Linked DNA regions of Homo sapiens. The protein of the gene in region 1 interacts with the protein of each later gene in a biochemical or structural test. Each region holds a gene or a part of one and is shown in the gene's direction. Other genes may lie near its edges.

Evidence for each region.
Region 2: the proteins of AGT (region 1) and LNPEP form a complex in vitro, tested with the Homo sapiens proteins (one study listed by BioGRID).
Region 3: of the proteins of AGT (region 1) and ECE1, one has a biochemical effect on the other in vitro, tested with the Homo sapiens proteins (one study listed by BioGRID).
Region 4: the proteins of AGT (region 1) and AGTR2 are reported together in a solved structure, tested with the Homo sapiens proteins (one study listed by IntAct).

Annotation. Positions count from the first base shown.
Region 1 is NC_000001.11:230,707,623-230,715,341, reverse strand, and holds the start of AGT (angiotensinogen precursor), read left to right. Parts: upstream 1-1,219; 5' UTR 1,220-1,256; intron 1,257-4,488; 5' UTR 4,489-4,518; coding exon 4,519-5,347; intron 5,348-7,719. UniProt on the Homo sapiens protein: Essential component of the renin-angiotensin system (RAS), a potent regulator of blood pressure, body fluid and electrolyte homeostasis.
Region 2 is NC_000005.10:96,940,030-96,947,748, forward strand, and holds part of LNPEP (leucyl-cystinyl aminopeptidase), read left to right. Parts: intron 1-7,719. UniProt on the Homo sapiens protein: Release of an N-terminal amino acid, cleaves before cysteine, leucine as well as other amino acids. Degrades peptide hormones such as oxytocin, vasopressin and angiotensin III, and plays a role in maintaining homeostasis during pregnancy.
Region 3 is NC_000001.11:21,234,964-21,242,682, reverse strand, and holds part of ECE1 (endothelin-converting enzyme 1), read left to right. Parts: intron 1-4,438; coding exon 4,439-4,549; intron 4,550-5,838; coding exon 5,839-5,937; intron 5,938-6,755; coding exon 6,756-6,833; intron 6,834-7,719. UniProt on the Homo sapiens protein: Converts big endothelin-1 to endothelin-1.
Region 4 is NC_000023.11:116,165,186-116,173,543, forward strand, and holds the start of AGTR2 (type-2 angiotensin II receptor), read left to right. Parts: upstream 1-5,558; 5' UTR 5,559-5,631; intron 5,632-5,782; 5' UTR 5,783-5,842; intron 5,843-7,060; 5' UTR 7,061-7,095; coding exon 7,096-8,187; 3' UTR 8,188-8,358. UniProt on the Homo sapiens protein: Receptor for angiotensin II, a vasoconstricting peptide. Signals primarily via a non-canonical G-protein- and beta-arrestin independent pathways. Cooperates with MTUS1 to inhibit ERK2 activation and cell proliferation.

The DNA of each region.
Region 1 (7,719 bases):
AGACAAGTGATTTTTGAGGAGTCCCTATCTATAGGAACAAAGTAATTAAAAAAATGTATTTCAGAATTTACAGGCCCATGTGAGATATGATTTTTTTAAATGAAGATTTAGAGTAATGGGTAAAAAAGAGGTATTTGTGTGTTTGTTGATTGTTCAGTCAGTGAATGTACAGCTTCTGCCTCATATCCAGGCACCATCTCTTCCTGCTCTTTGTTGTTAAATGTTCCATTCCTGGGTAATTTCATGTCTGCCATCGTGGATATGCCGTGGCTCCTTGAACCTGCTTGTGTTGAAGCAGGATCTTCCTTCCTGTCCCTTCAGTGCCCTAATACCATGTATTTAAGGCTGGACACATCACCACTCCCAACCTGCCTCACCCACTGCGTCACTTGTGATCACTGGCTTCTGGCGACTCTCACCAAGGTCTCTGTCATGCCCTGTTATAATGACTACAAAAGCAAGTCTTACCTATAGGAAAATAAGAATTATAACCCTTTTACTGGTCATGTGAAACTTACCATTTGCAATTTGTACAGCATAAACACAGAACAGCACATCTTTCAATGCCTGCATCCTGAAGGCATTTTGTTTGTGTCTTTCAATCTGGCTGTGCTATTGTTGGTGTTTAACAGTCTCCCCAGCTACACTGGAAACTTCCAGAAGGCACTTTTCACTTGCTTGTGTGTTTTCCCCAGTGTCTATTAGAGGCCTTTGCACAGGGTAGGCTCTTTGGAGCAGCTGAAGGTCACACATCCCATGAGCGGGCAGCAGGGTCAGAAGTGGCCCCCGTGTTGCCTAAGCAAGACTCTCCCCTGCCCTCTGCCCTCTGCACCTCCGGCCTGCATGTCCCTGTGGCCTCTTGGGGGTACATCTCCCGGGGCTGGGTCAGAAGGCCTGGGTGGTTGGCCTCAGGCTGTCACACACCTAGGGAGATGCTCCCGTTTCTGGGAACCTTGGCCCCGACTCCTGCAAACTTCGGTAAATGTGTAACTCGACCCTGCACCGGCTCACTCTGTTCAGCAGTGAAACTCTGCATCGATCACTAAGACTTCCTGGAAGAGGTCCCAGCGTGAGTGTCGCTTCTGGCATCTGTCCTTCTGGCCAGCCTGTGGTCTGGCCAAGTGATGTAACCCTCCTCTCCAGCCTGTGCACAGGCAGCCTGGGAACAGCTCCATCCCCACCCCTCAGCTATAAATAGGGCATCGTGACCCGGCCGGGGGAAGAAGCTGCCGTTGTTCTGGGTACTACAGCAGAAGGTAAGCCGGGGGCCCCCTCAGCTCCTTCTCGGTCTTGTCTCTCTCAGATGTAACTGAGCTGTGGGCTAGGAGGAAAAGGCCGGGAGGAGGCACGGTGATGACTGAAAAACCTCTCCCCTCTCATAAGACCAGTCATCCGGACGCGGGCTTTCCCCCACTCGGTGCCCACCTGGGGTCTTACAGGAGGAGCTGCTCCTCCTCAGCAATAGGACAAGATGGTCAGGTCTTCCTGCTTCCGCTGAGAAAAGTTAGGGTCCTCAGGAACGGAGCAGACTGGTACAGGAACAGAGTCATCATGGCCAAGAGTCCACCGGGTCCTCTTGCCATCAGGAGGAATAGCAGGGCTTGTGCAGGAATTGGGGCTGGAGGGAAGGGCCGGGCTCGGTCAGTCTCCAGCTGGGATCCCCAGAGTGGTCACCCTACCCCTCCCTCGAGACAGACTGCCTGACTGTGTGTCATCAGGCTGGTCACCATCTCCCTGAACCTCGATTTGCTCACCTATAAAATGGAACTAATAACGATGCCTGGGCTCCCTGTCTCAGGGGCTCTGGTATAGCTGAAGAGAACTAATATAACATGAAAGTGCTTTCTAAGCTTTGGGATAAGCTAAAAGGCAGATTCCAATTTTATTCGAGGGCAGCGTAGATTGGTGCTTCAGCTCGTGGATGACAGAGTCAGGGGGCCTGGTTCTGAGTCCTAGTTCTGTCTCTTCCCAGCTGTGTGACGTTGAACAAGTCACTGGACCTCTCTGTTCCTCTGCAAAACAGCATGAACCAATTCATTAACTACTTCTCCAGGATGCAGTAGGTCCCAGGGACTATCCTAGGAATGTGGGCTGTATTAGTAAACACAACAGCGGGAACCCTGTTCCGGGGCTCACATTCACATCAGAGCAAACAGACAAAGACGCTGGACAGAATAAGTGCATAACTACATGGTACAGAGGGTTATAAGGAGGGAAAAGGGGAGCTGGATGAGAGAGTTGAGAGTGCCCGGTGTGGTGGGGAAAGCTGCAGGGTGAAATACTGCATCAGGGAAACCTCAGGGAAGGTGAGGACTATGGTGAGGTCAGAGGGGTTGATATGAGAACAGTGCCCTGCAAATGGCAGGCACCACAGGAGCATGAGCCGTCATCTTCACCTTTAGCATTCAGCCCGGGAGAAGTAGGGAGACATAGAAGGGGCAGGTGCTGGCCAAGAGGCAGGGGCAGGAGAGGAGAAGGCGGAGGGGCACTCAGGGCGAGGGTGTCAGGCCCGCCACCCCAGAGCACCATTACTCCCAGGACGCGGCTGCGTGCAGACCTGGAACCAGCCTAGGGAGCAGCCGCAGATCACAACTGAGAACAAACGACAGTCTCTGCCTCAAAAATGGCCCATGGAATTGCGTCTCTGGAGACGCTGCCTGAGCAGGAGCAGCACAGTGAGCGGGCTGCATCGACCAGCGCCATCCAAACCCCGAACAGTTGGCGCTTGTCAGGCAGGACTTCCCAGCAGTCGGTTCCCACAGGTTTCCCCTGTTGACCTGATTTGATGTGACTGTCTAGATTAGGTGTGAACTGGTGGCTTAGGCTTCTCTGCACAGAAAGGCCTGCAAGCAGCAGAGAGAGTTTTCTGTTCCATTTTTCCATGTCATGTGGCTCTTCCTGAGAACAGCGGATGGAGTCAAATGCATGGGGAGTGGGGTGAGATGGTAGCTGAGGTCAGAATTTGGCATTTGAATGACTGAAGCAGAACAAAACACACCAGGTACTTCAGCAGCTGCACCGTGTTGAGGGCAGGTGCTGGTTACGGGTCTGGGTGAGGGAAGCCAGCTGCCAATGTAAGAAGAATGACTGGGTATGCTTAGATGAAGCAGAAAAATCTAGGCATCAAGGTGGCCTTGAGTCAGTGATGACACGCTACAGCTCCAAGGAAGCCTGGCCTAGCCCTGGGGGGACAGAAAAGGCCAAGAAGTGACGATATTGCAGTACACCCCCCTCCACAAGAAATGAGTGAGATGTGGTACAAAATGTTAGAATTGAATGAATCAATAGAATAAACGTTCATCCCTTCAATCAAGAAGAGTCAGATGAAATGAATTAGCAGGGCCAGCCCAAGAACCTCTTCTGGGGGTCTCAGGGTAGCTTTCATTTGTAGCAGCTGAGGCTGAAGCCCAGCTGCAAGGCCTTTGAGAGAACGTGGTGCTGGACCCGTGTCTAGGGCAGGGGTTCTAAACCCTGCTTACATATCAGAGTCACCTGAGAATTTTCTATTTTTTTTTTTTTTTTTTTATACGTGGTCCCAGCACAGACTAAGGAATCCAACTATCATTGGGCAAGCCATGCTAGGTATGCATGCCTTTGGGGCTCTGCAGGGGATAGCGCTATGCAGGGATGGTTGAGAGCTGGTTTTGGGGTTGAGACACGTGGGAAATACTTGGACTTTGGGCTGAGCCTGTGGTGCTCAATCCCGGCTGCATGTTGGGACCACAGGGAGATGACAAAACCATCCCCAGCCCTCACCCTAGGGCCCTCGAATGAGCATCTCAGGGGTCTAGGAGGCCTCCACAAAGACCTACTGATTGGCACACACTTGTTTCTCTAGGAAGAGAACTTACAGCTGCAGGCAGGAGCATGTCTTAATCTGCTTGGGCTGCCATAAGTACCACAGACTGGGAGGGTTTAACAACAGAAATGTGTTATCTCACAGTTCTGGAAGCTAGAAGCCTGGGAGCCAGCCATCAGCAGAGTTGGTTTCCTCTGGGTCCTCTATCCTTGGCTTGTAGATGGCCGTCTTCTCTCTGTGTCCCCACATGGTCTTCCCTCTGTGTCCCCACATGGTCTTCCCTCTGTGTGTGTCCATGTCCTCATCTCCTCTTCTCATAAGGACACAGGTCATATTAGATCAGGGCTCACCCTCATGGCCTCATTTTAACTTAATCATCTCTTTAAAGATCCTGTCTCCAAATAATGGTCACATTCTGAGGTCCTGGGGTTGAGGACTTCAACACGGGCATTATGGCCGTTGGGGGAGGTAGGACATAATTCAGCTGATATTGGTGCATTTTGCACTTGGATCATGTAGATATTTTCCATGGAGCTTTGAATCCATTTCTTCTTTTTTTTGTAGACATGAATGGATTTATTCTGGGCTAAATGGTGACAGGGAATATTGAGACAATGAAAGATCTGGTTAGATGGCACTTAAAGGTCAGTTAATAACCACCTTTCACCCTTTGCAAAATGATATTTCAGGGTATGCGGAAGCGAGCACCCCAGTCTGAGATGGCTCCTGCCGGTGTGAGCCTGAGGGCCACCATCCTCTGCCTCCTGGCCTGGGCTGGCCTGGCTGCAGGTGACCGGGTGTACATACACCCCTTCCACCTCGTCATCCACAATGAGAGTACCTGTGAGCAGCTGGCAAAGGCCAATGCCGGGAAGCCCAAAGACCCCACCTTCATACCTGCTCCAATTCAGGCCAAGACATCCCCTGTGGATGAAAAGGCCCTACAGGACCAGCTGGTGCTAGTCGCTGCAAAACTTGACACCGAAGACAAGTTGAGGGCCGCAATGGTCGGGATGCTGGCCAACTTCTTGGGCTTCCGTATATATGGCATGCACAGTGAGCTATGGGGCGTGGTCCATGGGGCCACCGTCCTCTCCCCAACGGCTGTCTTTGGCACCCTGGCCTCTCTCTATCTGGGAGCCTTGGACCACACAGCTGACAGGCTACAGGCAATCCTGGGTGTTCCTTGGAAGGACAAGAACTGCACCTCCCGGCTGGATGCGCACAAGGTCCTGTCTGCCCTGCAGGCTGTACAGGGCCTGCTAGTGGCCCAGGGCAGGGCTGATAGCCAGGCCCAGCTGCTGCTGTCCACGGTGGTGGGCGTGTTCACAGCCCCAGGCCTGCACCTGAAGCAGCCGTTTGTGCAGGGCCTGGCTCTCTATACCCCTGTGGTCCTCCCACGCTCTCTGGACTTCACAGAACTGGATGTTGCTGCTGAGAAGATTGACAGGTTCATGCAGGCTGTGACAGGATGGAAGACTGGCTGCTCCCTGATGGGAGCCAGTGTGGACAGCACCCTGGCTTTCAACACCTACGTCCACTTCCAAGGTAAGGCAAACCTCTCTGCTGGCTCTGGCCCTAGGACTTAGTATCCAATGTGTAGCTGAGATCAGCCAGTCAGGCCTTGGAGATGGGCAGGGGGCAGCCCTGCGGACATACCTGGTGACCACCCTTGAGAAGTGGGGAAGTGGCTGCTCCGCTGGGTCCCTGGATGGGCCGTCCACCTCCTGGACCTGCTGCCCTACTATGTGCACGACTATACAACATCCTTTTTCTTACATCATTTAATCCCCTTATGATGTGGTGAAGAGGTATTTGTGCCTTTGTTTACCAGTGAAGAAATAGAGACTCGGAGAAACAAAGTGCCTTGCTCAAGATGGCACAGCCACCAGTGGGGGTCCTGGGATTGAAACCCACATCTCCTGGCCCCACAGCCCAGTTCTACACTCAGAAGGGTCAGGTTCATATCTCTTGAGAAGGTCAGGAACTGGGGTCCCTGGCCCATGCAGAAATAAGCAATTGGCTTGCTTAAATCCCTTTCATGTTAGGAGGGGCATTACTGAAAACCCTCTACTACAAAGATTGTTGATTTTTTTTTTTTTTTTTATTGAGACAGGGTCTTGTTCTGTCACCCAGGCTGCAGTGTAGTGGTGCCATCATTGCTCACTGTAGCCTTGAACTCCTGGCCTCAAGCGATCCTCCCACCTCTGCCTTCCAAAGTGTTGGGATTAAAGGTGTGAGCCACTGCACCCAGCCACAGATTGCTTAAAGCATTCATTTAACAAATACTTGTTGAGGATTTGCTACTTGTAAGACTTTAAGCCTGGCATCTCAGAGGAGGCCAGAGGAGGGCTGTATAGGCCCTGCCTCCAGGCTTTTAAAGGTCAATGGGCAAATGCCTAGGATTTGGAGCTGCAGGGAAACGTGCTCCACAAGGTAACTCAGGGAAGCCTCGGGGCTCTCAGAGGACAGAGGTCACTGGGGAGCGGAGAGCAGGCCTTGCCTGGCAGTGAGGGCAACAGGGCTGGTGAAGCTAGGAGCAAGCATGATGAGCCCAGCCTGCAGAGTTTGGGGCAAGGAACGAGGATGGGGCGGTTGGCTTGGCATGAGTGTTGAACCAGAAAATGGGCCTGGGGAGGGCAGAGCTGGAGACACTTTGAACGCCATGCTTGGTAGGTGTGGGAATGGGGACGCGTTCTGTTCAGAGGTCATCCCGGAAGCCTGCCGTGTGCAGACTGGAGGCAGGGAGGATTGTTTGAAGGTTACGCAAGAGTCCAGGCACACAGTCACGGGAACACGTGCTCAGGGAGCAGCTCGGCAAATCCATGGGTGGGGTGGGGCTGAGGGGTGTGTCTAAGAGACACTGAGGAGGCTCTGTCAAGATGTTAACCTCGTGAGGGACAGAGAGCCAGGCGGGAGGTGAAAGACAAGACTGTGGAGAAAGAGGTTCAGTGGCGCATAGTGATTTTTCTTACCACAACAACCTCCTTGAGGTCTTTCCCTTCGGGTTCAGGGAGAGGTGATAGATGGGGGGATTGCTCAGCCCTGGCACTGACTGGTCACAGGGGCAGAGGCCAGCCCGAGGGTTGCCCGGTTGAGGGTGGCAGCACACTGTGCAGGGCAGAGCAGGGACACATGGACTTAGCCTGCTGTCCCTAGGAGAAGTGCTGGGAGGAGCGCTCACTGAGAAGGAGGGTCCTGCAGAAGGCAAAGGCAAGAAAGCCAGTGGCATCTGAAATGGGTCTCCCTTCGAAAGAGAGCACATCCACCTGACCCAGACCGCAGAGCCAGGCCAGGAGGAAGAGGAGGAAGAATAAAAAAGCCAACCACATCGGGACTCAAAGGAAGCCCAGGATCCTCGCCGGCCTCCACCGCATGCTGCCCTGACCCTGCCCCACTTCCTAACTTTGCTGGCCTCAGTTTCCGTCAAAGGAGGCAGCCACTTCCTGCCCACATGGTCTGTCCAGTGAGGAGATCGGGGGCTGTCTCGGGACCTCTAGGTTTCCCTTTAGCAATGATGTTCTATTTACATGACCTCAGCAGGCAGCTAGATGTGTCCCACTAGAGAGGACCTGAGGATCTGGGGCCTGATGGGCTCCAGGGTACCGTCTGCCCAGTGCTTGCTGTGCTCCTGAGCATGGGGCGCTGGCCCTGGTGGTTTCCATGACACCAGGTCCTGACTTGACCTCGACAGATTTACCTAGCCTCCGGATGAGAATGGTGAGCTGTGCATGTCAGACGAGCAGAGGGAAGACGGCAGCCACTCTCATGTCAAATCCCAGCGTCTTTTGGGAGGCAGCTTCCCTTTTTTAGTTTAGTTTGTTGGAAGAAAAGAATTGTCCCTTTCCCCCCTCTAAACTAAAAGCCTTGCCAGCCCAGGTGGGCAGCACCGAGGTCCCTGCAGGGAACGTGCAAGGGGA
Region 2 (7,719 bases), on another chromosome or scaffold:
TGTTTTTATCTTTCTGTCTTAAGTTTTTAATTTTATTTGGGGGAAATAAGACTGTTAGGAATTAAGTGTTAGCATCACTAACAATCTAGGGTTAAAGCTATAGCTAGAAACAGCCCAGTTTTTAACTGGAAACTAGTGGTAGAAAAGTTCTTTGCTATTACTTGCCAGTTTCCAAAAACTGTCTTGATACATGCATAAAAACAGCATATTTTAGAAACTCTTATAACCGGTGATTATCATTTATCTGTAGGTTATCCTTGAGAACTCAGCCTGAAAGATAGATAACCAGAGAGATTGGTTATAAGGAAATTATATAGAAAATAAGTGGTAATTTTCTGCTCAGTAATTCAATCATACAGCTATCTTTTGAATGCCCATTTACAAGTAGATTTTCTGCTAGACACAGTTACATTAAAAAAAAAAAACCCACAACCTCGTCATCAGATAATGCTTACCTAAATAAGAGAAATGAATAGAAGAACCTAGTTTTGTTGTCATGCTAATATGAAATATGGAAACACAGAAGAAATAAAAAAGCAATAAAGTTTTGTCTAAGACAGTATTCTAATTATGAAATAAATGTACAGAAACTGTTCATAACTGTTTGCATGTCTACTAATTTAGTGTAATACTCCTATTAGGAAACAGCAGTATTAACCCTGTCTATGAAAACATTAGGAAATTGAGATTTGAAAGAGTTTAGCCAAGATTACCCCAGATGTTGGGATGGACCTAGATGAGGCCTGTGGTTCTTGGCAGTCGAGGTGAGGTCAGTGCAGCTATGTTTTGTCAATTAGTCACCTCATGACTTGAAAACTGTAGGGCAGCAGTCCCCAAACTTTTCGGGACCAGGGACCACAGTCGGGGGGATGTATGTATACTTTCTAGTTTGTGATATATTCTAAAGGGGAGAAGGTTTGGGGATGACTCAAGTGCATTATATTTATTGTGCACTTTATTTCTATTATTATTGCATTGTAATATACAATGAAATAATTATACAACTCACCATAATGTAGAATCAGTGGGAGCCCTGAGCTTGTTTTCCTGCAAGTAGACAGTCCCATCTAGGAGTGGTGGGAGACAGTGACAGATCAGGCATTAAATTCTCAAAAGGAGCACACAACCTAGATCCCTCACATGCGCAGTTCACAATAGGGTTCGTGCTCCTATGAGAATCTAATGCCACCACTGATCTGACAGGAGGTGGAGCTCAGGTGGTAATGCTAACGATGGGGACTGACTGTAGAGATGAAGCTTCACTTGTTTGCCTGCTGCTCACTCCTGCTGTGTGGCCTGATTCCTAACAGGCCAGAGACTGGTACTGGTCTGTGGCCTTGGGGTTGGGCAAACCTACTGTAGGGGGCTGGAGTTGAGCTGATACTACTAGGCCTTTCCATAGTATAATTGGAGCAACCAGAAAGACACAGTCTTTTATTTATTTATTTATTATTATTTTTTTAATTTGAATCCGTAGATAAATTTCAGCAACTTTTCTGAAAGTTTGCAAGAAGCCAGGATTGAGAATGAAGGGACATTTTGGAGCCCTTGTGGTGGTACAGTTCTTTTTATATCTAGATCTTGACCTAGATCTACATATGGCCGTTATAGAGAGTGTTGCTTATTGCCTTGGTGTTTCTGGACAGTAAATGGAACATCAAGAGTTCTCTGTGTCCATGGAAGGGTGGACAGGATTCCCTTGTAACCTTATCCATTGTTGTAATTCATTTGTGATTGTCCTAGCAGCACCTGAAGGACTTTGCATTTTACAAAGATGTTTAGAGAAAATTGGAAGAGGAGAATCAATGATGAAGATGAAAGAAATGTGGAGATTGGGGGTAAAGGAAGAAGCTGATAGGCAGAGATTTTAAAAATGGTCATGCCTTGATCCTTGCAAGTCTTTGGTTCAGAAATGAGCTTCAGTTGGAGAGCAGGACACTGTTGTATGAGGTTGAAGACAGAGTCTAGGTTGGAAGGGGACAGGTAGGTAGGTCTGGTTGGATTAATGGAATTGGGGGCTCAGGGGACAAATGAGTTAAGATTGGCATTTGGGAGCCTTGCCAAGAGATAGAAAACATTTGCCAGAAATTTAAGCATACTGTCTTTTTTATAGTCAGAAAATTCAGTCACTCGTAAGTTGGGACTGTTCACTTGTCTGAATGTTTTAGATTTAAAGAAAAAATATAGCTCTTTGATAAACAACGTGGTGTGGAGCTGTGGTAAGCCTGCTCTTGCTCCTGACTCACCGCCGCTCGCTCTCACCAAAAAACAGGTTGGTCAGGAGATACAGAAAAACGCCCATGAAGCCAGAGGTGGCAATTCACTGAATTAGAATCACTCTAGGCCCAGCGCGGTGGCTCACACCTATACTCCCAGCACTTTGGGAGGCTGAGGCAGGCGGATCACCTGAGGTCAGGAGTTTGAGGCCAGCCTGGCCAACATGGTGAAACCCTGTCTCTACTAAAAATACAAAAATTAGCTGAGTATGTTGGCACGTGCCTGAAATCCCAGCTACTCGGGAGGCTGAGGCACAAGAATCACTTGGACCCAGGAGGCGGAGGTTGCAGTGAGCCGAGATCGTGCCACTGCATTCCAGCCTGGTGACAGAGCGAGACTCCATCTCAAAAAAAAAAAAAAAAAAATACGAGAACACTTGGACACAGGGTGGGGAACACCACACACTGGGGCCTGTCATGGAGTCGGGGGAGGGGGGAGGGATAGCATTAGGAGATATACCTAGTGTAAATGACGACTTAATTGGTGCAGCACACCAACATAGCACATGTATACATATGTAACAAACCTGCACGTTGTGCACATGTACCCTAGAACTTAAAGTATAATAAAAAAATAAATAAATAAAAAGAATCACTCTAACGAGCTGCAAGGTAAAATCCTTGGAGAAGGTGTGTGCCGACTTGATCAATGGATCAAAGGAAAAGAATCTAAAGTGATAGGACCAGTTTGAATGCCTACCAAGACTTTGAGAAACATTACAAGAAAAACTTCTTATGAAGGTTCTGAGACATGGTATTGTTTCCAGATGAGAATCCATAAGTGACTCATTGACTTCCACAGTCTTTCTGAGATTGTTAAGCAGATTACTTCCATCATTATTGAGCCAGGAGTTGAGGTTGAAGTCACCATTGCAGATGCTTAAGTCAACTATTTTAATAAATGATTACCAGTTGTTTAAAAAAAAAAAAAAGAAAACTATAGAGAGCTATCTACCTTTTGGGACTACCATGGTAGCAGTCATTTGCTGTTCCTTTTTTTGGGAGGGACGGGAACAGGGTCTTGCTTGGCTGGAGTGCAGTGGCACGGCCACAGCACTGCAGCCTTGACTTCTCAGGCTCAAGCGATTCTCCTGCCTCAGCCTCCCGAGTAACTGGGACCACAGGTGCACACCACCATGCCTGGCTAATTTTTGTATTTTTTGTAGAGATGGAGTTTTGCCATGTTGGCCAGGCTGGTCTCGAACTCCTGGGCTCCAATGTTCTGCCTGTCTTGACCTCCCCAAGTGCTGGTACTATAGGTGTGAGCCAGTGCGGCCCTGTGGCCAGCCTACTATTCTTTATAGCCTGGCTTTGCTTCACTTTTCTACTGGTGCTTGTGATAGAACAATGAACCAATTAATTTTTTTAAAATTCCATCCTTAACATGTAAATGAGGAGGAAACCAGGTCATTTGCCAAATAAGGAAAATTCAAGCTTCCAAGGGAGTTTCAAAAAACAATGGAGGATCAAGTTCAATTGTAGGAGACTTTTTGAAATTCTTTTTCTTCTAATACATATTGCTTAATGAAGGTACTCCTGGGCATTCCACATATTTCAAAAATGTAGTCACTGAACCAGAACTTGAATCAGTTGTCTGAATTTCTCTGGATTGTGGGGCTCAGAGTCTTCTCCAGCCAATGATCTGGGGTGAAGGAAGTTAAAGAAGGCTTCTTCAACTGAGGGAACAGAAGAATGAGGAGTGCAGTGAGAAAAGGATGCCTCTATGGGTTGGGTGTGCTCCCTTCCTCTTGCAGCAAGTGATGAACAGTGCTATGTGGGAGCATTTCCCGGACAACTGACTCAGGTGTCATTCAGTGCCATAGAGAAAATTTCTGGTAAGGAAGGAGGCTTAAGCCATAGTATTTCTCACAGCTGAAACTGTTATTTTGTCAAATTTAAAACAGTTGTTAGTATATTCATCAATGAAACATCATTACATTGTCAATGAAACATTTCATTGTCAATGAAAAGAGTCAAACTGTAAAATCTTTAAAGAGGCTTATTCTGAGATAAATAATGTGTGACCAAGGCCCAAAGCACAGTCTCAAGAAGTCCTGAGAACATGTGCCCAACATGGTTGGGTTACAGCTTGATGTTATACATTTTAGGGAGACAGAAGTTATAGGCAGACAACAATCAATACATGTAAAGTGTACATTGGCTCAGTCTGGAAAGGGGATAACTCAAAGCGGGGACTTCTATTCCAGTTCATAGGTGGATTCAAAGATTTTCTTTTTTGTTTTTCTTATTTTTGCTTTTTTTTTTTTTTTTTTTTTTTTTTGAGACAGAGTCTCATTCTGTCACCCAGACTGGAGTGCAGTGGTGCAATCTCAGCTCACTGCAAACTCCGCCGCCCAGGTTCAAGCAATTCTTGTGCCTCAGCCTCCTGAGTAGCTGGGATTATAGGCATGTTGCCACCACACCCAGCTAATTTTTGTGTTTTTTCAGTAGAGATGAGATTTCGCCATATTGCCCAGGGTGGTCTTGAACTCCTGGCCTCAAGTCATCACCCACCTCAGCCTCCCAAAGTGCTGGGATTACAGGCATGAGCCACACATGTGGCCACATTCAAAGATTTTCTGATTGGCAGTTGGTCGAAATAATTAAGTTATTATCTAAAGACCTGGAATCCATAGAAAGGAGTGTCTGGGTTAAGATAAGGTAAGGGGTCATGGAGACCAGGGTTCTTAATATGTAGACGAAGCCTCCAGGTAGCAGGCTTTCAGAGAATAGATGGTTATTATCTCTTATCAGAACGTAAAATGTGCCAGACTCTTAGTTAAATCTCTCCTGGATCAAAAAAAGACCTGGGGTGGTGCAGTGGCTCACACCTGTAATCCTAGCACTTTGGGAGGCCAAGGCAGGAAGATTGCTTGAGGCCAGCAGTTCAAGACCAGCCTGGGCAACATAGTGAGAGCCTGTCTCTACAAAAAAATTAAAAATTAAAAAAAAAAATTAGTCAGGTGTGATGGTATGCACCTGTGGTCCCAGCTGCTTGAGAGGCTGAGGTGAAAGGATCACTTGAGCCTGGGCAAAGTGGAAGTGAGCTGTGGTCATGCCACTGCACTGCAGCCTGGGCAAGAGAGTGAGACCCTATCTCAAAAAAAAAAAAAAAAAAAGAGATCAGAAAGGTCTTTTTCTATAGAATGTTCCACACAAGAGACAGCTTTGCAGGGCCATTTCAAAATAGGTCTAAGAAATATATTTTGGGGTAAAATACCTTTATTTCTTTCACAGCCTGCTATCTGTTGTGTGATGTTATACTAGAGTCAGTTTAGAATTTGGTATTTTATTGCTACAAAGAGTGTTTCGTCAGTCTTAAGATCTCTGTTTTAATATTAATGCTGGTCAGTTGTGCCAGAATTCCAAAGGGAGGAGAGTATAATGAGGTGCGTCTGACCCCCGCTTCCCATCATAGCCTGAGCTAGTTTTTCATGTTTACTTTGGAATGCCCTTGGCCGTTCAGTCAGAGGGGTCCATTCGGTCAGTTGAGGGGCCTAGAATTTTATTTTTGGTTTACAAAATCATTCCAAGATCCTCTTTAGAGGAAAAATTTATAGAGATTAGTGGGAATGATGAGGAGAACTCAATCTTGAGAGCTCAATCAAAAGGAGATGTTTAAATATCTTTTTAAGTTGGTATTGGTAAAGTGCTTTGAAGACAGAAAGAATGTAATACATGTCTGGTGTCTGCTTGTCCTATAATTGTCGGAAGGGCCTCAATGATGAAATAAGGGAGGCTGCCATGACACTTGAGTCTTGGTGAGAGGAGCTAGTGTGTCCACATTTATCAAGATCACCTGCAGGAGTTTGGGCTGGCCCCCTCTTATTAGTAGTTTCTCTGTTTTTTAAACTGGAGGCTCAGCGCCTTAGTATCTAGATTGGGTAGCTACATTATGAAGATAACTCAAACTGAACAATAGAGTATTGGGTATTAGTGGGAATAAGAAATGCATTGCTCTTTAAAGCAGCAGCCTCACTTCCATCTGCATCAGTACAGGATACTGAGAGGCTTGGTAGCATTCCACTTGTAGGAAGCACACAGAAAAATAATTGAATATAGAAAAGAGGGTCTAGTGTGACTTGGGGATTAGATAATAGAGCATGTTGAATTAGATGGAAATAAGCACATGTTCACTAAAGTGTGGCTAGCTTTGTTCCAGTCCAGTTGTTCACTGCAGTTGGGCATAATTCTGTTTTAATTAATTACCAATTCAGGAAATATTATTGCGATAAAGACTTGAAGAATTTATGCATAGAATCTTGTCTTGGCACATCATCGAATGACAATGACTATTAGTAGAAAAAATGTAGTTACTATCCCAGCCTTTTGACTAATCCATAACTAATTTTTTAAGTTGGTTAATGATAAGCAAACTGGCCCTCAGTCAGTTGTAAATTGATGACAAAGTTGTTACTATAAAGACTGAAGACTGTCGTATACCTGGTGTTTTATCAATCCAATGAGTCACATGGAAAAGTATTACAAAAAATTATCTGCAAGGTAATTTTTTGTTCAGATCCTTCTGAGATCTGGCAAATAAATGTATTCACCAACTGAGATTTCTTGTTTAACTCACAAGTTTTCTGTATACATTGAAGAGTTCTTATAAATTTCCTTTGCAGATCCCATTCAGTGATATGCATTCTTTGTTAAATAACTCACAGATACTCATTATGTCTAATGTAATTTTTCATTTTAAATAAGGAATTATAGGTTAAGATGTTCTTTTAAGACTATAGTATAGCGAATTGATGGAATTTAAAAGTAAACTTTTTATCTTTAGATCTTGTGAAAGTATTTGCAGCTATGCAGATTTGCTTGAGAGATTAATAAGCATAAATATTTAGGCATCATTGACAATGTAAATTACTTTATATTGCTAAATCTAACAGGGGCCCTAAGCATTGTTAAAGACTGGCACCCTATATTGTGAGGAAAGATTTAAGAAATACTATGGAATATAAAGATTTTTTGTTAATTTGATTGGGGGGACAAGTTTGTATAAATATAAATGTAAATAATTTAACCTAGGAAAAGAAAAAGAAAATTGAAAATTGGAGCTAAAATAATTTGATTTTTCCCTCAACAGGGTTATTGGCTGTCTTTTAAGTGACTAAAAGAGCGTATCTTTATGTGAATTTTAGGCATGGTCATATGATTAATACAAGGATAAAGCAACCAAATGCTCTCAGTATTTATTCCCGTGCTATTTGTCTGTTTTTTAGTTCATGGAGTATTGTATTGTACTTGGTAATTTGATGCTTTTGAGATGTCCTTTAGACAGATTTTTAACTACAGGACTTCCTCTGTAGAATCGACAATGTGTTTCACTCTCTGTGGCATTGACAATGTTTTTGAATGCCTAATTGTTCAGTAGAACTCCGTGGTTATTATTACAACTTTGTACATTATTATAAATATTTTATATTAGTTGTATATT
Region 3 (7,719 bases), about 210 Mb from region 1:
CCTCAAGAGAGGCAAGGGCAAGTGGGAACCCTGAAGTGGGAGGGTCTGAGCAGGGGTCTCTGGATACCCCAGGGCTGATGGGTGAAGGCTGCTGCTCACCTGTTTCTTAATCTCCAGCCCTCCCCACTCCCCAACTGTGACAGAGTCTGGGCCCAGGCCAGGTCCCTCCTCCTTGTGTTCAGCCCAACTCAAAGCCACCTCCTAGCTGTGTGACCTTGGGTAGTCCTTACACCTCTCTGAGCCTCAGTTTTTTTAATCTGCAATTGGAGATCACTCCTGACCTCACCTCACAGGACTTTTGTGAATGGCCTTCATTCGGGAAAAAGCATAGAGCATGGGAAGCAGTGTGGTGTGTGCGTTTGTTCATCCTGGCAGGGAGGGAGCCTGCTGTGAGGAAACGGCATGGAATTTGGAGTCAGAAGATCCAAGTTTGAATTGTTTCTTCTAATCACACCTTAGGCAGATTGCCTCACTGGGGCAGGGGCTCAATCTCCCATCTGTAGAAAGGGGTAACAGATCCCTGCCTTGCTTATCCAAGGGCCGCCTAAGATTAGACGAGGGGATCCCTGTGAAGTCTCTTCTGACTGCTCAAGCGCTGCATGCAGCCGTTTCTCATCAGCTATCACCCATTTGTGACTTGAGACTTCCAGCAGGGAGGAAGGAACCCCTTGCTGAGTGCTCCTTGTATTACAGTGAGGAAGAGGTTAAAAAAAAAATTGCAGCCAGGTCAGGGTGGAGGAGGCTGCCTGGCTGCTCTTCATCTTCCCAGACCTGACTCATAGATCTCCTGCAAGATGCAGGCTTCCTGACCGGTCAGATCGATCAGACCCTCGCTCCTTTTGGAGATTTTCTCACCATCCTGTAGTACTTCCAGGACTTCGTGACCTGTAGGCAGAGAGCGTGGCCTCTTTGAAGGAAGACATTGGAGCCGGACTTTCTGAGTTCAAATTCCACCTCAGGCCGGGTGCGGTGGCTCATGCCTGTAATCCCAGCACTTTTGGGAGGCCAAGGCTGGTGGGATCACCTGAGGCCAGGAGTTCAAGACCACCCTGGCCAACACGGCAAAAGCCCGCCTCTACTAAAACTACAAAAAATAGCCAGGTGTAGTGACACACACCTGTAATCCCAGCTACATGGGAGGCTGAGGCAGGAGAATTGCTTGAACCTAGGAAGCAGAGGTTGCAGTGAGCCGGTATCACACCACTGCACTCCAACCTGATAGACGGAGCAAGACTGCATCTCAAAAAAAAAAAAAAAAACACCTCAACCACTTACTCCCTGGGTGATCCCTTTGGCCAAGTGATTTAACCTCTCTGTGCCACAGTTTTTTATCTGCAAAAAGAAACAGACTGGGTGCGGTGGCTCACACCTATAATCCTAGCACTTTGGGAGGCTGAGGCGGGCAGATCACCTGATGTCAGGAGTTCGAGACCAGACTGGCCAACATGGCGAAACCTTGTGTCTACTAAAAATACAAAAATTACCGGGGGTAGTGGTGGGCACCTGTAATCCCAGCTACTCGGGAGGCTGAGGCAGGAGAATCTTACTGTGAGCAGTATATGCAGTAGGGCCCGCTCTCACTCCACTGCTACACTTCACTGTGATTACTGCTGTGGATGGTGCAATTACATGTCTGTTTCTCTCACTGGATGTTCTGGGCATTTCAGTTGAGACCCAGGAGTACAGGCTCACTGTTGATTCATCTCTAGCTTCGAAAGACCTAGCACAGTCAGGATGCAGGGCAACTGCTCACAGAACGCTGGATGCGTAAATGAATGAAAGCTCGTGTGAAGGAATGGGTTTATCCAGAGAATCTCCAGAGAAGACGACACATAAGAAAGTCTGTCTGTGATTCAGCCCTCACAGCCTGGAGCCTCCACGGAGCTTCAAATTAGAGTCCCCCTCGTCCTGACATCCTGTGTGGTCGGCCTCGGCCAGACACAGACCATGTGTCCAGCTTTGGGCTTCTCAGCCGAGGGAGGGTAGGCGCGGGAGGGAGGGAAAGGCTGAGGGCAAGGCATCCAAATGGACACGTAGTTGGGAAAACTAAAAAGAACATGGGTAAGAAGAAGAGTGGCCCTTCCTTTCTTTCTTGCCTAGAAGGAATTTTTGTAGCTAAGGCATAATTTACATACAATAAAAATGCAGTGTACATTAAGTATTCAGTTCAGTGAGTTTTTGGTTTGGTTTGGTTTTGAGACAGAGTCTTATTCTGTCACCCAGGCTGGAGTGCTGTGGTATGATCTCAGCTCACTGCAACCTCCATCCCCAGGGTTCAAGCGATTCTTGTGCCTCAGCCTCCCGAGTAGCTGGGGTTACAGGTGCCTACCACCACACCCGGCTAATTTTTGTATTTTTAATAGAGATGGAGTTTCACCGTGTTGGCCAGGGTGGTCTCGAACTCCTGACCTCAGGGGATCCACCCACCTCAGCCATCCAAAGTGCTGGGATTACAGGTGTGAGCCACCATCCCGGCCTTTTTTGTTTGTTTGTTGTTTGTTTTTGTTTTCAATTGAGACAGTCTCGCTCTGTCACCCAGGCTGGAGTGCAGTGGCCTGATCTTGGCTCACTGCAACCTCCGCCTCCCAGGTTACAGCTATTCTCCTGCCTCAGCCTTCTGAGTAGCTGGGATTACAGGCATGTGCCACCACGCCTGGCTAATTTTTGTATTTTTGGTAGAAACAGGGTTTCACCATGTTGGCCAGGCTGGTCTTGAACTCCTGACCTCAAGTGATCCACTTGCCTCGGCCTCCCGAAGTGCTGGGATTACAGGCATGAGCCACCACACTTGGCCTCAATGAGTTTGACCAATGAAGTCACCCATGTAACCATCACCACAGTCAAGATAGAGAATATCCCCTTCTGCCTTGGGCATAGCATGCTAAAAAAAAAAAAAAGAAAGAAAAAAATGTATAAAAAATTTTAGAAAGATAGAGAACATTCCCATCATCCATTTGTCCAGCGCCCTCTGAGCAGCAGGTACCCTCATGCCCCTTTCCTGTCAGCCCCCAGCCCCCAAGGCTGGTGCAGCTGGGTGTGGACGGAATTATACACGATGTGCCTGGCTGCTTTTGCTCAGCTTGAGTCTGTGGAATTTATCCATGCTGTCGTATATATCAGTAGCTAGTTCATTCCTTTTTGTTGCCAAGTAGTATGTTGCTGTATAAAAATACCACATTTTGTTGATCCGTCTGCCTGCTGATGGGCATTTTGGCTGTTGTCAGTTTAGGGCCATGATGAATCAGACTGCCCTGAGCGTGGGTGGTTGTTAACCACCTGTTCTTTGGGGTTAAGAGGACATCACTTCCTCTGTCGTACGAGGGATTTATGTGAGCAGGGCCACCACACGTGGTCATATATACTGTCCACAGAGGGATGCCTGGCCGGGGAGTGACTGGGGCTGACATTAGCCCAGCACGCGTCCCTGGGCCATGCCCAGGAGGTTGCAGCCCACAGACGCCTATTTCCGGTTTGCACAGAGGGGTTGTATGGACTGTTGGGGCTTGTAGGCAAGACCAAGAAAGAATCAAGGCATTGCAATCCCGCGGTGAGCCAGGTGTGGTGGCTCACGCCTGTAATCTCAGCACTCTGGGAAGTCAAGGCAGGTGGATCACTTGAGCCCAAGAGTTCTAGACCAGCCTGGGCAACATAGTGGGATGATGTCTCCACAAAAAAAAAAAAAAATTTTTAAATAGAAAAAATTAGCCAGGCATAGTGGCCTGCACCTGTTGTCCCAGCTACTCGGGAGGCTAAGGTGGGAAGATCACTTGAGCCTGGGAGGTCGAGGCTGCAGTGAGCTGTGTGATCGCACCACTGCACTCCAGCCTAGGTGACAGAGCGAGACCCTGCCAAAAAAAAAGAAAAAAAGAAAAAAGTCCTGCGGTGTTGCTGTGGTGTTCTCATTTGAGGAGATCTTCAATGGCATTGGAGCCCTGGCCCTGGGGCAGTTTTTTCTGTGACTCAGGGTAGACCAGTCACTCTCCACCGCTCTTTGCCTCCAGGACTCCTGCTCTTCCCAGGAGGCAGGACGAGATGGGGGTAGGTAGGAGCATAGGATGTGGAGTCAGGCACGTCTCAGTTCTCATTCCAACAACACTTGTCACTCGTGGGGCACCCTGGGCCAGCAGCTGCTCCGTGCCGAGTGTGTTTCCCCATCAGTCAAACGGCTTGTAAGCCCCGAGGGTCATTGAATGGCTCAACGGGACACTATTTGTGAAGTCCCAGCACAGAGCCTGGCATTCAGGAAATGGCAGGGGGTGGGAGTGAGGGTATCAGTGGCCTCTTGGTCCGGTGACTAAAATAACTTTACTGGGTCGGAAAGCTCTCCCTGAACTTCCAGAACAAAGCATGGGCCCCACATGGTGCTACCTCCCAGCAAGAAAGGGGTTGGGAAACAAAGGGCTGGGGCCCAGCGAGCCCCCTGACTTGTGTTTTCCAGACCTGTCTTCCTCGCTGGAAGTTTTGCGTGAGTGACACAGAAAACAACCTGGGCTTTGCGTTGGGCCCCATGTTTGTCAAAGCAACCTTCGCCGAGGACAGCAAGAGCATAGTAAGTGCCTTCCCCGTGGACACAGGCTGTGAGGTCACACTTGTTGTGGCCTGCACAGACCTGCCAGTTCACACTCCAGCCCACCCTGGGCCTTTCCTGCTCCTGGGCAGGGGACCTTAGGGCCACAGCCTCAATGCAGAGGCTTCACTTCCTCGAGCCCTGGGTAATGGGAGTCTCACGAGGGCAGCTCTTCAGTGCCAGGCCCTTATCTGCACGAGCTCATGTGATCCTCCCAGCAGCCTGCAAGGCTGTGACAGCCATCCCCACCTCCAAGGGCTGTGAACGACCCAGAGAGAATGTTGGCAGAACAGCTCTGGCCCAGAGGGTGACATTTTTCTTATTTTGTGGGTGACAGGTTTGTTCTAGACAGGCAGAGGAGTGCCATGGCAGAGCGCCTTGGAGACAGCCCGGCCTAAGCTCAGATCCTGGCCTCACCGCTGGTCGGGTGGCCTGGGACAGTTCTTACATCATCTGCAATGTGGAGACGGGGGCATTCCTCCCACAGAGAGAGATTAAATGAGATGCCACACACTGGGCACCGGCATACAATAAGGGTTCAGCTAATGGGAGTGGTCATTTTATTGTTACAATCTTGATGACAAATAGTATTCATTATGTAGCTGTCATCTGCAGCCGGAGGTGAGCCAACCGCAATTCAAATCCATTACAGTGACTGGCCTGTGAGCAGCTGGGCAGGGTCTGAGTTGGGGTCTGCTGGCCCCTCTGCTCTTGTTGCCGCACAGCTCTGCCTTCCCCTTCTCTAGAACCTTCAACTTTCCATCTTCGAGCTTGTCTGCTCATGACATTGTCTCCCTCAAGAACACCTGTCTATATCCAGCCTGAGCATGGTATTTCCGAAGCTGCTCCTCGGAACATGAGTACTCTAGATCTTAAAGCCCGCTCCATCAAAAAGGAATGCTGTGGTCCAATAAGGCAATAAGGCTGGGAGAGGCTGTGTCTTCTCCCCTCTCTGGAAGAATCACGGTGCCTATTATTACCATATTAAAGGCTCTGAAAAGTACCACAGCAGAGACTTTTCCAACTTTCCCGAAGCTCATCCTAAGCTTATTGGAGCATGGAGCCCTGTGTGTGGAAGGCCAGTCCTGTCTTGCAGGGTGTTCACGTTAGGAGCGTGGTTTGGAAGCACAGCTGTGGCTCCCCTTCTCACCCAGCCTGACGCTTGGAAAATTGAGTTTAATCTCTGGCCATCATTGTTCTGCACGGGGTGCCTGTTGCATTTACCTGAGACCAGTGCGCAGACCTTACTGCTGTGATGTGTATCTCCTCAGGCCACCGAGATCATCCTGGAGATTAAGAAGGCATTTGAGGAAAGCCTGAGCACCCTGAAGTGGATGGATGAGGAAACCCGAAAATCAGCCAAGGAAAAGGTGAGGCTGGCCAGGCACTTGGAGGGGGTGCTGCGGCGTCCAGCACAGATAGAGGAGGGTGGGGGAAGGAGAGGCCGGTTTTTTTGTTTGTTTTTTGAGGCAGAGTTTCGTTCTTGTTACCCAGGCTGGAGTGCTATGGTGCGATCTTGGCTCACCGCAACCTCCGCCTCCCGGGTTCAAGCGATTCTCCCACCTCAGCCTCCCGAGCAGCTGGGATTACAGGCGTGCGCCACCACGCTCGGTTAATTTTGTATTTTTAGTAGAGATGGGGTTTCTCCATGTGGGTCAGGTTGGTCTCAAACTCCCGACCTCAGGTGATCGACCCGCCTTGGCCTGCCAAAGCGCTGGCATTATAGGCATAAGCCACCGCGCCCGGTGAGGCCAGTTCTGTCCGGCAGCACAGCCTGGATGCTGTCTCGCCTTCAGCGGGTGAGCGGTCTAGGCCTAGCAGGATTCGGGGTAGGCCTCAAGCACATGATTGCTTGGATGTCTGTAGAAGACAAACCTCGCTGAGTGTACGGGGAAAAGGTGCAGGAAAACGCAGCACGTCCCGTGGGTCGGGAAGGCTCTGGCACCCTCCAGTGGGATGGGAGTCAGGGAAGACTTCCCTTGGGAAAGTGACATTTAAACAGAGACCTAAGGGATAAGTAGAAGTTTTGCAAGGGGGAAACCTTTCCAGAAAAAGACATGAAAGCCCAAGGCAGGCAGGGCCTGGCTCTGGTTCCCCTTGGCCCAGACTATGAGCCCAGCACCCAAGTTGCTCAGGCTGGCCTGGTCGATGTTGCCGGGCACTCACTTCCTCTGTCTGTCCTGTCCAGGCCGATGCCATCTACAACATGATAGGATACCCCAACTTCATCATGGATCCCAAGGAGCTGGACAAAGTGTTTAATGACGTGAGTAGCTGCTGCCCTGCCCCCTTGCGTTCCTAAATGCCCCCTTAGAAAAGGGCCGAGGCAGGGCTGGGTCCAGATGGGGTGCTAGAGGCAGCATGGTTGTCAAAACACACAGGGATGATGTGGTGTGGGGCTTGGGTATGGGTCAGGCATGAGGAAGCCTCTTCTTCTTCTTAATTTGGCTCCTGGGTCAGCTGGAGGCCCTGCCTCCCCATAGCCACCATCCATCAGCAGTGCCCACCAGTCAGTACAGAACCCGTGCTGTGTGCCCCCTGGAAGTGGTCAGCTCCATTTAATATGTGGGAAATAATGGAGGAAACAGACCCCAGAAGGTGCAGAGAGAATTGGTGGCCCTCAGACATCAGGGGTGGGGTATGAAGTGGGAAAACCCCCACACCACCTCCTCCCTCCCTGGTCGTGCTTCCAGTTACCTCCTGTCCCTGCGGCCCTCCTCCACCTCCCCAGAAACCCGGACCTCTGATTTTGACTTTGAAATGCTAATGGGAAAGAAGCAGCTTAAATCCAGGTGCATTTTTAAGCTTGGTTTGGGCAATGGAGGTGGTTGATACATCCCTGCTTATTAGAACTTTTGGCAAATCACTCAGTTAGGTGGATTGTGCTTCTGCCTCAAATTATGAAGTTTTATATCTTCTTGTGATTGAAATACTTGAATTCAGGTATTTAAGAAAAAATTTTTTTTGAGACAGGGTCTCATTCTGTTGCCCAGACTGGAGTGTAGTGGTGCTATCTCAGCTCACTGCAACCTCCGCCTCCCAGGCTGGCTCATATTCATGAGCCACCATGCCCAGCCTGAATTCAGGCATTTAAAAATCTAATAACCTCTCGTCATGGTTATATTTAGAACCTAAGACTATAAAGACTCATT
Region 4 (8,358 bases), on another chromosome or scaffold:
GGACTGTTGTGGGGTGGGGGGATGGGGGAGGGATAGCATTAGGAGATATACCTAATGCTAAATGACGAGTTAATGGGTTCAGCACACCAGCATGGCACATGTATACATATGTAACTAACCTGCACATTGTGCACATGTACCCTAAAACTTAAAGTATAATAATAATAATAATAATAATAAAAAGAAGTGATAAAAATGTTTTGGAATTATATAGTGGTGATAGCTGCACAACTTCATGAATATACTAAATATATTTTTAAAACGGTGCATTTCATATGTAAATTATATCTCAGTTTAAAAAAACAATTAAAAGAAGAATAATTTCAGTTGTGTGATCAGTATAAAATATAACCAATAAAAAATAGGAGTGTTACTGCTGAAACAACATGCAATAAATTAATTGTAAAGAAAGCTGTCAACTTCTAGATACCCAAGTATGAGCTAGTTTCTTTGTGGGTGTATTGCAAATTATTTACCGTAAAAATTCTGCTTTCCCGTTGTACATTTTACAAATCCTTATTGAAAACCACGAATTCAAATATCTGTAGGGTAAATATCTAAAAGCTCAAGCACTCTCATAATTCCTAGTGATAAACTTCCTGTTTTCATTTCCTTGGAGTAAAAACCTCAAGATCCACCCAGAACACCACCCCAAACTTCCTGTCATCTTGTTCTATCTTCTTTTTTTTTCAAATTTTATTATTATTATACTTTAAGTTTCAGGATACATGTGCACAACGTTGTTTTGCAGCTCAAAAGCAAAAATATCCAAAATTGTACAACTCTTTTTTGTTTTTGTATCCTTTTAGGAGCTTGAAAAGTGGTTGGGGTAAATGACTCCCTTAAACAAAGCTAAATAACCATTTGCTCTGAATTGATGGTCAGTTTTGGAGAGATGATTATTTTGCCTCTTTCCCTGTCTCTTTGGTGAGGGATTGTTCTCTCTAATCTCCAGCTTTGAGAATTTGTCCAATCAATCAAAGCAGATCTTGAATTACTTCTAGGCCACCTGGACAGGGACTTAATTATAGCTTCATCAATAATAGTAATATTTCAAATAATGTATCAACAGAATGGGGTGACTACCAGAAAAACAGGGTTCAGAGAGGCAAAACTGTTGAGAGAATGACTTGGAGGGCTCATCAATCTGGCAACCCGAGTGATAATCCCTGACAGAAATTTCCCGAAACTAAAGCAAAATAGGTTCCCAGTTACCAGCTTTCCTGATCTGATTGCAAAGTTACCAAGCCAGATTTACCTTGTTTCCTAATATTGGGATGGAGATGAAGAGGGTGCTTCAGATAAGGAACGCAATCTTTGTGGTCACTGGAAAGTAGTATATCTCTATTGCAAAGTAATAAATTAACAATCAAAGTACTATATCAGTTTTGAGATAATTTGATTGACATGAGCCATCACTGAGAGCCTGGGTATTCTGAGAAAGTTCAATATCTAGACCTAAAGCTCAAGGACCAAACTCTAGCTTAACAATTTGTTGATCCACTGCCCTATGAGAGTTCTAACCTGACAACATCTCCCCAAAACATCCCCCCAAAACATCCCCATCGCCTAAGAGTGGTGTTTAAATATTTCCAAGACAGCTTGTTGGTTTGGCCAATTTAGTCAATTGGCAATTTTGGATAATTTAGTCAAGCTATTTAATTTAGTCATATCAGTGGGAGAAATGTCAAATCATTTAGCTGATATTTGGAATGTAAACAAAAATATAGATAATTTTCATTTAAAATTTTTTTCCACCAGTTGGGTTATATAGCATTTGAGGATAGAACTAGGGTGCCTTTTGCAAGATTCTAGTCTGAACATGGTGCTCAGGCCTGAAGCTGTCTTTGGGGCAAAGGGAAATTAGAACTCTCCCTTCTCCTTATGTTCTTGGGACCAGATTCAGCTGGAAGCAGCTGGTCTCAAGAATGTACTGAGTCTGACATCCATTCATCTCACTACATCAGTTTCACCTTAACTTACTTAATAGTCCTCTGTGTCACTTTTCATGTGATGCGTAGACAAAGAGGTAGTTTGATGAAAATAATCACTCATGTTGGGCATTTCACTGAATTTTAAGCTGGTTTCTACAAAATGGCCAATCTGATTGTTATTTCTGAATAAAAGACCTTATTTTTTTTTCCATTTGCTTTAATTGTGACATTTCACAGACAGGCACAAAAATAATATGCAAAGATTCATCAATAATGGGCAATCTTCTTAACTACCCTCCTTTTAGAGACCCCCAGGTTAGGAAAAGTCCAGTGACAATTAAAGCAAGGCTACTCTATGGGTAAGTGAATTAAAGAAAAGTTGGTATAAAGTATGTACGTGGGTACATGGGTATGAATGGTGTGTGTGTGTGTGTGTGTGTGTGTGTTGAAGTTGAGAGAAGTGGCAATGATATTGGCACTCAGTGTGGTGGCTGGGGTTGGGGAAAGTTAAAATGACTCTGAGAGACCTAGATTAAAAAGGAAGACCCATATATATTAAAATCATTCCGTAATCTGTACCTCTAATCTTTACCTCTATAACCAGGGCACTATGTCTAGAATTTTTACGCATTTTTGCATTTATGTATTTCTTTTCTCCTTTGAAGTTTCATCTGTGTGTGTGGGTGGAGGTGAGGCGGCAAATAAAATTTGTTCTGAACTCTGTAACCTTCTAGCAGAGGAAGAATTTCTCTCAAGAACATTTACTTTTTTAGCTTAGTCCTTTAAAATTTACTGTTAAGTAATCTCACAATAAACAACAGGTATTCATTAGAAAAAAATTAATTTAATGTGATTTACTATTTAATTCTGCTAGCTCAGCTACACTTGTCCTGCAGAGCTGCATAATTTATTCAAATGGCCTGAAACTTTTTAAGTAAGTCTACCAGCAGAAAAATTATTCCCTACTCCCAGGAGAATGAACTTTTTGTGTTGTACTGCTTCCCAGGACTGACACTTATTTGACTCTCAAGTGTATTTACATTGTTGGCTTAACTGGGAGTTCTTTGCTGAATCAATAATATACAGTATTTCTTCAAGTGGTGTCAATATTATTGCTATTCTTTTTATAAACTTTTTGTTAATTCTCTGCAGTTACAAAATTTTTCTTTGACTTGTGAAAAAAATTACTCCTAAGATTATGAAGACGCAGAGTAAATGGCCCTTTAATCTTCTGGGAAATATGTACCTCTTTAAACTTTATTTATGTCAGAACTTACTGTAATGAAGGACAAAAGCTCTAGACAAGGTCCCCTGTTCCTTGTGGGTGTTCAAGGCTAGGTCTTCCGGAGACAAGCCTGTAGTTTGTTCTCATAATTTTATAGCTCACCTCCTGGCTGTTTCTTTGCAAGGGGCCTAAGAGGGTACAAGAAAAAGAGCAGGGTGAGAATCTGACCCATTGTGACCACTCGGGAGGCCCTGGCCTGGAAACTTCCCCTTTATGTGGCAAAAACAAACATTTGAAATGGAGGGAGAAACCAGGTTTAAACAATGAGTGAAAACAGTTTCCATCTCAGCTTTCCTGCTGATAAACATATGTGCCCCCTCATTTGTTTCTGAAACATAAGTTTTCCATCATTTTAACAGAGCCTCAGCCTCAACTGAATCTGTCCAGAGCATAGGAAACAAATATTTTGAGATTTAGTAAAATGGTGCATACATATATTAGGGGCATTTTGACAATGTTCAAACTGTTTACCAAACAAACTTTATGATGGCCTATGCAAACCTTTGAATCCTACTGTATTTTTCACATAACGATGACTTCTCACTGATCTCATCTGCCTGTGTGCTACAGTATTGACTTTAATATTAATGGAGAAACAGACAGATATCAAAAGCCATGTGATTTGTCTCATGCCATTTGCAATTTTGTCTTCTGTCATCAACACTGACTTCTCCTTCCTTGTTCTGCTGAACTCCATACTTAGGTGCCCAGCTACTTCCTCAGAGCCTGCCCTCATTCTTTACCTGTGGCCTGCAGCATGGACAGGTGCATTCTTGCTGCTTATCTGAAAAATATGATCCACAGAAATAACTTGAATCTTTTTGCCCATTTAAAATGTGCTCTAGGTTCTCTGGTTCTCTGTACTAACTATAGAAAGCCATCTAGTCACAAGTTTCTCCTTCCTGTGGTCTCCATTTGGGCAATACAATTAAGAAAAATACGTTTCCCCACATAACAATTCTTCCAATTCTTTTCCCCTTCTTTGATGCTTTTATGATAGATTATGAATGGTCATCAGTGATTTTCTGTAAATGCCACGTTTCCTTTTTGCCAAGACAAAGAGTGAGACTAAGGGACCATCTAGTGCTTCCTCTTGTGGTATAGAGGCTAAACAGCGTGAGTTCTGATATTAGTTTCCTTTGATTTAAATGCAAGTGTCTTCATTTAATAGCTGTATGATCTCAGAAAAGTTATTAAACTCTATGAGTCCTAGTTTCCTGATTTGTAAAGTGGGGGCTAATATGAATAGCTTGTAATAGCACCTACCATATGCTAGGCATGATTTTAGGCACTTTAAACATATTAGCTCATTTAATTTTCCATTAGCTTATTTAAAATTCCTACTCTACGATGTAGGTAATTTATATCATTCTCCTTTCTCAGATGAGAAACTGAGACATGAAGAAGTAAAGTAACTTGGCCAAGGTCAGAATTAGTAAGTGGTAGAGCTGGGTTTGTAAAGCCAGGTAGTTGGATCCCAGAGGCTATTTACTAACCAGTGTGCTATATTGCCTCTCTATTAAATTATTGATGATAAATAACTCATCACAGTGTTCGGCACATAACATTTATTGTCAGCTAGTATTATCACTACCATCACCTGTTCTTATCTTTCTTCATTTTGTCACTCTTGCTTCTGCTGGATTGGTTGTGTAGTTTATTGCCCCCACTGCCACAAGAGACAGCAGCAACAGTGATCTAGGTTGAAATAGCTAGCGAATCCCTCTTCACTTTATGTGCTTTGTATTTAAACCACAAATATGACAGAGACCTATGAAAGGAGACTAAACCTCTTTTTGGTCGTGTAAAAATTATATTCCTGCAATCTCCAACCCTCCAGCAACAAGCCAACAAAAACTGCGCAAAGCAAGGGAGAAATTTTAGAAGTGGTAGACTTCAAGTAAAATTCCTACCATTCTTTAATAAACAGGGGTAAAAATTTCAGAAAGTAATGAAGGTTGTGAAAGCTGATGAACAAAGACTTTGCTACTATAATAAATTTCCTAGTCTCTACTCACTAATTTCTATTAGAATGCCAATATCAGGAAAAAAGGAAGAGAAAATTCTGTAAATAATTACTATATTTTTCTCCTACCAAGTAAGCCACTGACTTCAAAATTCTCTAGCACATTTGTGGAAACTTCATTTTTTTTGTTTGAGATTTATTTGAATGAGCTGTTATGATTGGAGACAGTGAGAATTTCAGATTAATGTTTTGCAGACAAAAAAAAACCTCTCTGGAAAGCTGGCAAGGGTTCATAAGTCAGCCCTAGAATTATGTAGGTTGAAGGCTCCCAGTGGACAGACCAAACATATAAGAAGGAAACCAGAGATCTGGTGCTATTACGTCCCAGCGTCTGAGAGAACGAGTAAGCACAGAATTCAAAGCATTCTGCAGCCTGAATTTTGAAGGTAAGTATGAACAATTTATATATAATTTACTTGGAAAGTAGAACATACATTAAATGAAAATATTTTTTATGGATGAACTTCTGTTTTTCCTGTGTTTTAACACTGTATTTTGCAAAACTCCTGAATTATTTAGCTGCTGTTTCTCTTACAGGAGTGTGTTTAGGCACTAAGCAAGCTGATTTATGATAACTGCTTTAAACTTCAACAACCAGTAAGTCTTCAAGTGGAATTTATTATTGATTCTTTTATGTTAATTTGTTAGGTCAAAAGAAAAATCTTTAGAGCAAAATAAAAGTTTTGCTCTTTATTAGGAGGTTCTTTAGATATTACACTTTTAATTGGGTAGCTTATTTGCATGTATTTTGAAACTATCTAAAGTAAATAGTGTTTCCTTTGTATGCTTATCTTTAGCTAATGTGTTTTTTTTTTTGGTTTTAAAATAATGCTTCTAGTGAAAAAAATCACAAAAACCTCAACACTGTAACGTTTGAGAGCAACGGCTATTCAGTTCGGTTAAACCGAAAAGAGAGAAAAAGAAAAATGATAAGACTATATCATGATTAATCATTGATGTTCATTTCTCATTTCACTGAGCAATCTAAACTACTTCTACTTGAACCTAACATAGGTTTGGCTGTTTTTTTCTTTATCTGATTTAATTGAAAATGGATTGTTTAGATATTAAATAGACCAAAATTAGATATCTATATCTAAAACTAATATTCTCTATTAAAAGGAGAAGACTTAGAAATATAAATATATTTCATAACTTCTTCTTAACTATATTATTATTGTGAAAACAATAGAAAAGTAAAACTAAAGGAATTATTTTTAATTATTAAAGACAAACCATGATTCCCCATCACAATATGTTCCTTTGGCATATTCTCTTTTAGTTTTTTATATACTTATTTTTTCCATTGCTTATGTTACTTATATTTTCCACAGCTGTAGTGATTTGTATGTAATTAGTTACTTAAATAGAGCATTTCTCTATGCAATAGCAAGCAGCAGTGTGGTTTCTAGAAAGTATACAAACAGAGATATATGCTCAAGTGTTTTTTGAAAGATTAACTTTTCTTACCTCTGGGTTTCTTATTTGTTTCACACATTTCCTGCCCTGACTAATCTTTTGAAATATTAATTTTCTTTAAATCTTTCAAAAACATCATAGAAAAGATGGGCAAAAGGTAGTTTTATTCAGAACTTTGAATCTCTGAAATGTCTTTTTTCTACTATCAGGAAAATTATTTCTCCTTTTTCAAGAGGTAAAATGAATTCTTGTTTTACAAGCCATGGCTCTGTTTCTTAATGTTTTCTATAATCACTCACTTTTTTTTTGCTTTTGACAAACATTCAAAATGCTAATGATTCAAGGATGTCCTCAGCTCTGTATGTGTTCTAAGAGTTCTATGTTTTTTCTCCACAGAAGGCATAAGAACTAGGAGCTGCTGACATTTCAATATGAAGGGCAACTCCACCCTTGCCACTACTAGCAAAAACATTACCAGCGGTCTTCACTTCGGGCTTGTGAACATCTCTGGCAACAATGAGTCTACCTTGAACTGTTCACAGAAACCATCAGATAAGCATTTAGATGCAATTCCTATTCTTTACTACATTATATTTGTAATTGGATTTCTGGTCAATATTGTCGTGGTTACACTGTTTTGTTGTCAAAAGGGTCCTAAAAAGGTTTCTAGCATATACATCTTCAACCTCGCTGTGGCTGATTTACTCCTTTTGGCTACTCTTCCTCTATGGGCAACCTATTATTCTTATAGATATGACTGGCTCTTTGGACCTGTGATGTGCAAAGTTTTTGGTTCTTTTCTTACCCTGAACATGTTTGCAAGCATTTTTTTTATCACCTGCATGAGTGTTGATAGGTACCAATCTGTCATCTACCCCTTTCTGTCTCAAAGAAGAAATCCCTGGCAAGCATCTTATATAGTTCCCCTTGTTTGGTGTATGGCCTGTTTGTCCTCATTGCCAACATTTTATTTTCGAGACGTCAGAACCATTGAATACTTAGGAGTGAATGCTTGCATTATGGCTTTCCCACCTGAGAAATATGCCCAATGGTCAGCTGGGATTGCCTTAATGAAAAATATCCTTGGTTTTATTATCCCTTTAATATTCATAGCAACATGCTATTTTGGAATTAGAAAACACTTACTGAAGACGAATAGCTATGGGAAGAACAGGATAACCCGTGACCAAGTCCTGAAGATGGCAGCTGCTGTTGTTCTGGCCTTCATCATTTGCTGGCTTCCCTTCCATGTTCTGACCTTCCTGGATGCTCTGGCCTGGATGGGTGTCATTAATAGCTGCGAAGTTATAGCAGTCATTGACCTGGCACTTCCTTTTGCCATCCTCTTGGGATTCACCAACAGCTGCGTTAATCCGTTTCTGTATTGTTTTGTTGGAAACCGGTTCCAACAGAAGCTCCGCAGTGTGTTTAGGGTTCCAATTACTTGGCTCCAAGGGAAAAGAGAGAGTATGTCTTGCCGGAAAAGCAGTTCTCTTAGAGAAATGGAGACCTTTGTGTCTTAAACGTGAGAGCAAAATGCATGTAATCAACATGGCTACTTGCTTTGAGGCTCACCAGAATTATTTTTAAGTGGTTTTAATAAAATAATAAAATTTCCCCTAATCTTTTCTGAATCTTCTGAAACCAAATGTAACTATGTTTTATCGTCCAGTGACTTTCAGGAATTGCCCATT